Regions from separate parts of the Homo sapiens genome. Here region 2 is linked to region 1. Evidence: fine-mapped expression QTL. A gene starts in region 1. The other region holds a variant in brackets. All regions are shown on one strand. Distances are between the middles of the regions.

What was found. PIP is the estimated chance that this variant, and not a neighbour inherited with it, causes the effect. A credible set is the group of variants that fine-mapping cannot tell apart.
Region 2: its variant is the best candidate, but not a certain one, in a credible set for the expression of ESAM in breast (GTEx, PIP 0.78).

Annotation. Positions count from the first base shown.
Region 1 is chr11:124,759,641-124,764,026 of GRCh38, forward strand. ESAM (endothelial cell adhesion molecule) reads right to left here and starts at 2,650. Exons shown (of 7, transcript NM_138961.3): 1 at 2,445-2,650. The coding sequence starts at 2,514. The region is part of intron 1 of ESAM-AS1 (ESAM antisense RNA 1); the gene reads left to right. RefSeq lists enhancers at 241-310, 2,205-2,708 and silencers at 2,439-2,848, 3,389-3,438.
Region 2 is chr11:125,540,716-125,545,101 of GRCh38, forward strand. No RefSeq gene overlaps it. Among named protein-coding and RNA genes, the nearest start is that of EI24, 27 kb to the right of the region's middle. The variant G/A (reference allele first, on the strand shown) is at 1,987.

The DNA.
Region 1 (4,386 bases):
GGGAGCCGATCCGGCCAGGATGCAAGCCTCCCCCACCGCTTCCCGGCTGCGCCGTACAGAACCCCCACCTCTGTTACTTGGCCTTCGCAGCATCCCCCTTCCCATTTCCTGGAGGATCTCTGTGGTCTGGGCAGGAAATTTGTACCCAGTGATAAGGCAGAAGACAATGAAGGGGGGGCCACTAGACCGGAGGCTCTACGGGAGGAAACAATCCCCGCCTCAAGGAGCTGGACGCCCCCTGGGGACCCGGCCCGCTGGCCATTCCGCTGAGGCCGGGCACGCCTGGAGCCTGCAGGTGCTGCCGGCTCTCCCCCAGCCTTTCTACGACACACACCCGGCGGCCAGAAAGGGTTTCCGCCGGGAAACTGCCTGGGGCCCAGAAGGGGCGCGCCCTTCCTTCACCTTGTGGACCACCAGCGACCTCCCCAGGTCCCACATTTATAATTCCACTTTCCAGAAGGTAGAGGAGAGTTAAAAGAGATAGTAACGGACACACTGGGGTCTGGGCACATGCTCCTTGCCCTTCGCCCTGTCAGAAACTAGGAACAGAAGAGGGCCTGAGGCTTTTCTGCTCTCCCTCCTGGGTGTCTGCTGGCTCGGAAGTCACCAACTGGTCCGTTTTTTTCGGTCCCAGGGTCCACGGAGCCACTGGGAGAGAAAAGGAGTCTGGTTGGGTCTGATCGAAGGACACTGGGACAGCCCAAGAAAGGGACCCTTCCGGCCCACAGCCCTCTCCGAGGCCAGAGTGAGGGAGCCGGCAGGGGCCGAAGGAGAGCGAAATGGGCCCGCTCCCCGGGGCTATTTTTAGTCTCCCTCTTTCTCTGAGAAACTCCCCCCGCGGGCTTCTCACGCCCCAGGGGCAGCAGCACTGAGCCGCCGAGGAGCCTACTGAGCCGGAGAGCCTCCTCCAGAGCCCAGAAGAGCGGAGCCGGGCGCCTGCACGTTGCACCGGGGTCACCAGTGCCATTTAACCCTCGAGTGGCTGGCGGGAACTGGGCAACCCCCCAGGGGGACCGATTGGAACTTTTGAGTCCAGGTCTTCAGTCTGACAAACTGAGGCTCAAAGCTGGGGTAGGACAAAGGGTTGCAGATGAGCAGCAGGTGAAGCCTGGGACACTCAGGCAGTCAACTTGAACTGTCCTCCCTGGCTTCAGAGATTCCCCCAGCCCCCACCCCCCACAAGGAAGGGGGATAGAGTTGGGGTGGAATGCAGAAGGAACAGAGCTGAAGTTGAAGTTGGGAAAGGCGGGATGAGAAGTCTGAGGGATCCTGGAGCAGGCCCACCAAGCCCAGAGGGACAGAAGGCTACTTGTGGCCTTGGTGTGGCCTGGGGGGCTGTACTTGAGACTCATTTTGTCCAAGGACTATAATATTGCATGCCCCGACACCTGTGGGGCACAGAACATGCTAAAGGGGACACTGGTGATCCTCATCTCTGTCCCCATCATTGTAGAATTTCACTCTACAGCTTCCCAGGCCTTACTTGTCCTGACATCCTCCAACCTGAGAAATGAGTTAAAGTCAATATAGCTAAACCCACCCTTCACTCCCATTCGAGATCCTTGAAGGGAGATGGCAAGAAAGCTGAGGGACAGCAAGTGAAATAGTTTAAAAGGGCCTAGTCCTGCCGGGTCCTCTCCCAGATGGAGTTCTGAGCCACCCCAGCTTCAGCTGAAGCCAGCGCCCCTGGAGGCCTACAACACTTCCCAAACACTTGCTCCAAGGAGGTTCCCTTCCTCTCTGACCCTTGGCCACCCTCCTCCCAATTTCCCCTCTTCCCTTTGGCTCTGGAAACCAATAAGGGTGGTGGGCCTTGGGGGGGTGGGGTGGTCACAATTCTGTTTCTCTGTGCGTTTGAACCCCTCCCCCATTTCCTGTGTCCCAAATGACCTCACGGTCGTCCTTTTGGGGCACCTCCCTTGATTCCCAGGGCAGGAAGCAGGAGGGGGCAAGAGAGAGCATCTGCGCTGGGGAATTGACACGAAGTGCGTGTGTCAAGCCTGGGGACCAGGGGTATTTCCCCGGGGGATCTTCCTCATCAGCTTGTATGTGGGGTCGGGGATGAGAGGGGGCTAGAGTTAAGTCCTTAAGCTCTTTAGCCAGTGTCTCATCTAGCGGCTCAGCTCATCCGGCTCTGCTGGGTGGGGGGTGGGGAGTGGACAGGGTGAGGAATGGTTCCGATAACTCACCCCAGAGGTATCCAGGTCTTCCGAGAGATGCCCTTACCTCCCCCCGCCATCCGCCCCCACACCCAAACTGGGGGCTGTCCCCGACAAAGCGAGAAGTCAGCGCCAGCCAGTGATGCCCTGGAGTGGGATTAGGAGGTCAGGGGAGGAGGGCGAGTCGTGGGACCCAGTTCCGCAGCAGTGGCCAAAGTTCTCCCTCAGGGTCGAACTCACCCCATCCCGCATCCCAAGTCCCCTCCAGGTCCGGGTTTCACTCACCGAGGGCACTCAGCCCCAGGAACAAAAACCGCAGCAAGTTGGTCACCAGGGGCCCCGGGAGGGAAATCATGGCCCTCCCTGGCCGGGACGGAGTCAGGGGCGCCAGCCGCGGGACGCACGGACCTGCAGGTGCCGAGGCTGCGCGACGGCCGGAGCGTGCGCGGGAGCCGAGCCGCTGACACCCAGGGCGGCTCCAGCCCAAGTCTGCGCGCCTGTGTGCCGGTGGCGGGGTGGGGACCGACGGCGACAGCGGGGCGGGGCATTCGAGGGGGCGGAGAGGTCGCCGTCCTCCCGGGCGGGGCGCGCGGGGTCCGCCGCCCGGGGGCGCCCCCAGCGCGCGGACGGCGGGACCCTGCGGCCTCCTCCAGGTCTGGACGCAGGGAGGGGTGAGGTAAGCTCTGATGCCCCACGAGCCAGCCAGGTACGAGTAGAGGGGGAAGAGGAGGCTCCAGAACTATCCTGAGCCGTAACCTTCCCTTCCGCCGGGGTGGGATAGGAAGGGTGACCAGGAAGGGTGGGAAATTTGGGGACTATCCGAAGTCAGAACCACCCGTAACACCTGACATGTAAACGCTCCTGGGCTCTGGCTCCAAACTTGGGGGTGCCGCATCCCCGGCCCAATCAGGGCGGTCTTCCTGAAGGAGGAAGAGGGGAGCAGCGTTTTCCAGCTGCAGGGAGAGGCCGGAGCGCCGGCCGCGCGGGCTCCCTGGCACAGCGGGAATCTGTGGCTTTCCTGGAGGCGGGGGCTGCGCGGCCACCGGAGCGCGGCAGCGAGGGCGACGGCAGAGGTCGCGCGGGAGCCCAGGGCGCCCCGGGACGCGCCAGCGGGGAATCTTCACCCGCGGGCAGGAAAAAGCGCTCCGCGAGTTCAGCAGACCCCAGCCCAGGCTGGAGGATTACCCCGGCCTGTGCCTCATACTCCGAGCAGGGAAGGTTGGCACAAGGTAGTCCCGGGAGCTGAGCAGGAAACTGAGGCAACGTGCGTGCTGCTCCCAGCTTAGCCCCTGAAATGAGCGGCGTACGGGCCTGATGCTGACTGGGGAGGAGGGGCGGCTGCGGGAAGGAAGACAGGACAGTCCCTCCGTTTCTTCTTTATCCCCCAAATCTTCAGTGCCTCCCATCCCCGCAGCGAAAGGCTCAGGCGCGCTCTGATCCTTTAATTCCCGAGACTAGATCTTGGTCGCTGTGAATTGAATTTTACGCCCCCCTTCCCGCGCCATTCGGTCAAAAGGCACCTCTGCGCCCTCTGGCGGCCGCCGCTCCCTTACAGAAAGGCACGCACCTGTTCTTGCTTTTCTGTCCAACAGCCAAAAAAAAAAAAAAAAAAAAAAAAAAAAAATGCTTCAAACATCCCAGCACAGCTCAACCACCCAGCAAAGGTCAGTGAGGGAAGAAAGCATAACAACGAATTCCTGACGCTGCCCGCTCTGCGGGCAGAGCTGTCTGGGAAGAAAAGCAGCCAGGCCTGCGGGATTCCATTTACTGCACATAGTTTTGCTGTTTTAACAGAGTGTAGTCCCTGGGCCCACACTTCACACAAGATCTTTTTCTATACAGTGCCCCATATGCCCTCTCAGCTGCTTCTTTCTAGTGTGACCTGCCTGGCTCCTCTTCAAATACCTGCCATGCAGTGGCTTTGAGAAATGCCTATGCAAACACAAAACTGCTCATGCAAACCCTAGAATCTAGTACTTGGCAGCTCAGTGGAGGCACAGACAACAGGAAGAGATACCTGCCAGTCTCACACTCTTGTGTAGGGAGCTACAAACTTGGACTTGGCCAAGCAGATTGTGTGGTGGGGTTGGGGGCTGTTGGTTTGGTTTTCCTATTCCATCACACTCAAATTTTTCTTGGCTTTAGTCTGCATTGCAAACCATCTCTTGTAAACACCCCTCCTTTGTTTCCAGACAAGTCACCCCAAATAAGTAACTCCTTCCAAGAG
Region 2 (4,386 bases), 780 kb after region 1:
CTAGAAAACCCCATTGTCTCAGCCCAAAATCTCCTTAAGCTGATAAGCAACTTCAGCAAAGTCTCAGGATACAAAATCAATGTACAAAAATCACAAGCATTCTTATACACGAACAACAGACAAACAGAGAGCCAAATCATGGGTGAACTCCCATTCACAATTGCTTCAAAGAGAATAAAATACCTAGGAATCCAACTTACAAGGGATGTGAAGGACCTCTTCAAGGAGAACTACAAACCACTGCTCAAGGAAATAAAAGAGGACACAAACAAATGGAAGAACATTCCATGCTCATGGGTAGGAAGAATCAATATCGTGAAAATGGCCATACTGCCCAAGGTAATTTACAGATTCAATGCCATCCCCATCAAGCTACCAATGACTTTCTTCACAGAATTGGAAAAAACTACTTTAAAGTTCATATGGAACCAAAAAAGAGCCCGCATTGCCAAGTCAATCCTAAGCCAAAAGAACAAAGCTGGAGGCATCACACTACCTGACTTCAAACTATACTACAAGGCTACAGTAACCAAAACAGCATGGTACTGGTACCAAAACAGAGATATAGATCAATGGAACAGAACAGAGCCCTCAGAAATAATGCCGCATATCTACAACTATCTGATCTTTGACAAACCTGAGAAAAACAAGCAATGGGGAAAGGATTCCCTATTTAATAAATGGTGCTGGGAAAACTGGCTAGCCATATGTAGAAAGCTGAAACTGGATCCCTTCCTTACACCTTATACAAAAATCAATTCAAGATGGATTAAAGATTTAAACGTTAAACCTAAAACCATAAAAACCCTAGAAGAAAACCTAGGCATTACCATTCAGGACATAGGCGTGGGCAAGGACTTCATGTCCAAAACACCAAAAGCAATGGCAACAAAAGACAAAATTGACAAATGGGATCTAATTAAACTAAAGAGCTTCTGCACAGCAAAAGAAACTACCATCAGAGTGAACAGGCAACCTACAACATGGGAGAAAATTTTTGCAACCTACTCATCTGACAAAGGGCTAATATCCAGAATCTACAATGAACTCAAACAAATTTACAAGAAAAAAACAAACAACCCCATCAAAAAGTGGGCGAAGGACATGAACAGACACTTCTCAAAAGAAGACATTTATGCAGCCAAAAAACACATGAAGAAATGCTCATCATCACTGGCCATCAGAGAAATGCAAATCAAAACCACTATGAGATATCATCTCACACCAGTTAGAATGGCAATCATTAAAAAGTCAGGAAACAACAGGTGCTGGAGAGGATGCGGAGAAATAGGAACACTTTTACACTGTTGGTGGGACTGTAAACTAGTTCATCCATTGTGGAAGTCAGTGTGGTGATTCCTCAGGGATCTAGAACTAGAAATACCATTTGACCCAGCCATCCCATTACTGGGTATATACCCAAATGAGTATAAATCATGCTGCTATAAAGACACATGCACACGTATGTTTATTGCGGCACTATTCACAATAGCAAAGACTTGGAACCAACCCAAATGTCCAACAATGATAGACTGGATTAAGCAAATGTGGCACATATACACCATGGAATACTATGCAGCCATAAAAAATGATGAGTTCATATCCTTTGTAGGGACATGGATGAAAATGGAAACCATCATTCTCAGTAAACTATCACAAGAACAAAAAACCAAACACCGCATATTCTCACTCATAGGTGGGAATTGAACAATGAGATCACATGGACACAGGAAGGGGAATATCACACTCTGGGGACTGTGGTGGGGTCGGGGGAGGGGGGAGGGATAGCATTGGGAGATATACCTAATGCTAGATGACACATTAGTGGGTGCAGCGCACCAGCATGGCACATGTATACATATGTAACTAACCTGCACAATGTGCACATGTACCCTAAAACTTAGAGTATAATAAAAAAATAAAAAAAAAAAAGTTCAATATGTTTATTTAATTCAAAGCTTATTTAAAGGTTATGTGTAAAACAAG[G/A]TAAAAGGAAGCAGGAAATAAGAGATGTAAAGAAAATTATCAATATAAAGAGGCATTTTTTGTATTTAAGGCAAACAGGAAAGTAATTTTATATGAGAAAGAATCTTGCCTAGTGAATTTTTGTTCTAAAATAAAATGACTGGGTTGTTTAAGAAAGTGAAATATTTAGGACAAACCAGAAGGTCCAAGTATGTTGTGAATGGTCTAAGTTGTAATAAGGTTAGTAAAAAGGGAACTTATAAAAGTATTATGTGATTAATTGGTTTTAATTACAGAAAATTATAATAGTTTTTTAAAATTGAACTTTGGTATTTAAAAATATGCTAATACAAAATTAAATAATTGGTTAAAACAAGATTTTATTAAAATATTAACTTATACTTAATGCAAGAGGTTTTTAATTTTTAAATTCTATAATCTGTCTCTTTGAAATTCTTCAGATTAGTATCTCAAAAATTCAGGTCTTTCTCTTTTGAAAAGGCCTTCACCTTTTGTTGGCTCTTGTAACTTTTAATTATCTAAAGTAAGAGAAGAATTTTTTTAAAAAACATGGCAATTAAATATCTTTTGGACCTGCCATTTGTATTCTGCATGCCTGTGATAGCTCTATTCTTATATGTGTCACGTGGAAGTGATAGTTCACTACTGTTAAATCAAGTTTAGCCTAAAGCTGTCTCCTCACATATTTTAAGTTTGGCCTAAGGGTTTTACTGTACATCATGAACTGCTGCAAGTGGAGGTGTAAACAGACTGTACCCTACCTTGTGTCAATCCCAGAGTTTCTGCCAATCAAATGTAGCCAACTGTTCAAACCATGTTCAAATAAGGCAAACACTGAGCTATAACCAATCCAGCTGTTTCTGTTCCTCACTTCCATTTTCTGTTCCTCACTTCCATTTTCTGTACATCACTTTCCTTTTTCTGTCAATAAATCTTTTTCACCATATGGCTGTGCTGGAGTCTGGGCCTACTCTGGGTCAGGAGACTGCCTAATTCACAAATTGTTTATTGTTCAATTAAATGTCTTTAAATTTAATTTGGCTGAAGTTTTTCTTTCATCAGATGGTGTCAGAAGTGGGATCTGAACTAGAGCCTCTAACGAGACCCCCAGGAGTGCTGAGTGACCAAGCAAGGTATCTGCTGGACCCATTGTGTTCGTTTCTCTCTCAGAGTAGTTGAGGATCATGGTAAGGTCTCCCTCAGATGCTGAAGCTCCACGGATTTGTTTTGAACTGAGTTTCTTTGAGCAAGTCTCTGATTTAATCTGGATTTGGAAGTTGTGATGGAAACTGGACTTGGTTCAGGATCAGATTGGATCTGGAATTAATCATCTTGGATCCAGTTAGAGGCCTCCTACATCTGACTGGGTCAGAAAGAAACTGGTAGTAAATGGCAATGTTGCAGGGGATGTAAAATTTGGCTTTTGGAAATTCTCATGGACTTTTGTGTACTACCCCTTTGTTTCATTTTTCATGTGCCATTATGTAGAAAAAAAATTGTCTGAGTTGATCAAGGGAACCTGAGAGCAAGGCCAATATTTGAGGTAAAAATGAGATCCTTAATTTCTTTTTCTCGGTTTTTGTTGTTGTTGTTGTTGTTTTGTTTTGTTTTGTTTTGTTTTTTGAGACAGAGTCTCACTTCATCAACCAGGCTGGAGTGCAGTGGCATGATCTTGGCTCACTGCAATCTTCACCTCCTGGGTTCAACAGATTATCGTGCCTCAGCCTCCCAAGTAGATGGGATTACAGGAGTGTGAAACAACACCAGGCTAATTTTTGTATTTTTAGAGGAGACGTGGATTTTGCCATGTTGGCCAGGCTGGTCTTGAACTCCTGGCTTCAAGTTATTTACCCACCTCAGCCTCCCAAAGTGCTGGGATTACAGGAATGAGCCACCACACCTGCCAAGATCTTTAACTTCTGAAGAACTGAGTTCCTTCCAGCTTAAACATGCGTAAGTATTATACCCTGGAAGCAGCAAAGTTTTACAGAAATGGCAAAATATTACTAAAGATAACTTACAGTGGAACGTTACAAATAAACAACACTGTACTGAAATGAATTTGAAAATAAGGGCTCCCAAATTAGTCTCATCTAGGGATGCCTATTGATGTACAAAACTTCTTTAAAAAATCAGTATTTTTATTAAAAACTTTATGAGGCTGGATGCAGTGACTCATGCCTGTAATCCCAGCACTTTGGGAGGCCTAGGTGGATGGATCACCTGAGGTAGGAGTTTGAGACCAGCCTGACCAATAGGGCAAAACCCCATCTCTACTAAAAAACAAAAATTAGCCAAGCGTGATGGCGGGCACCTGTAGTCCCAGCTACTTGGGAGGCTGAGGCAGGAGAATCACTTGAACCCAGGGGGTGGAGGTTGCAATGAGCCAAGTTCATGCCA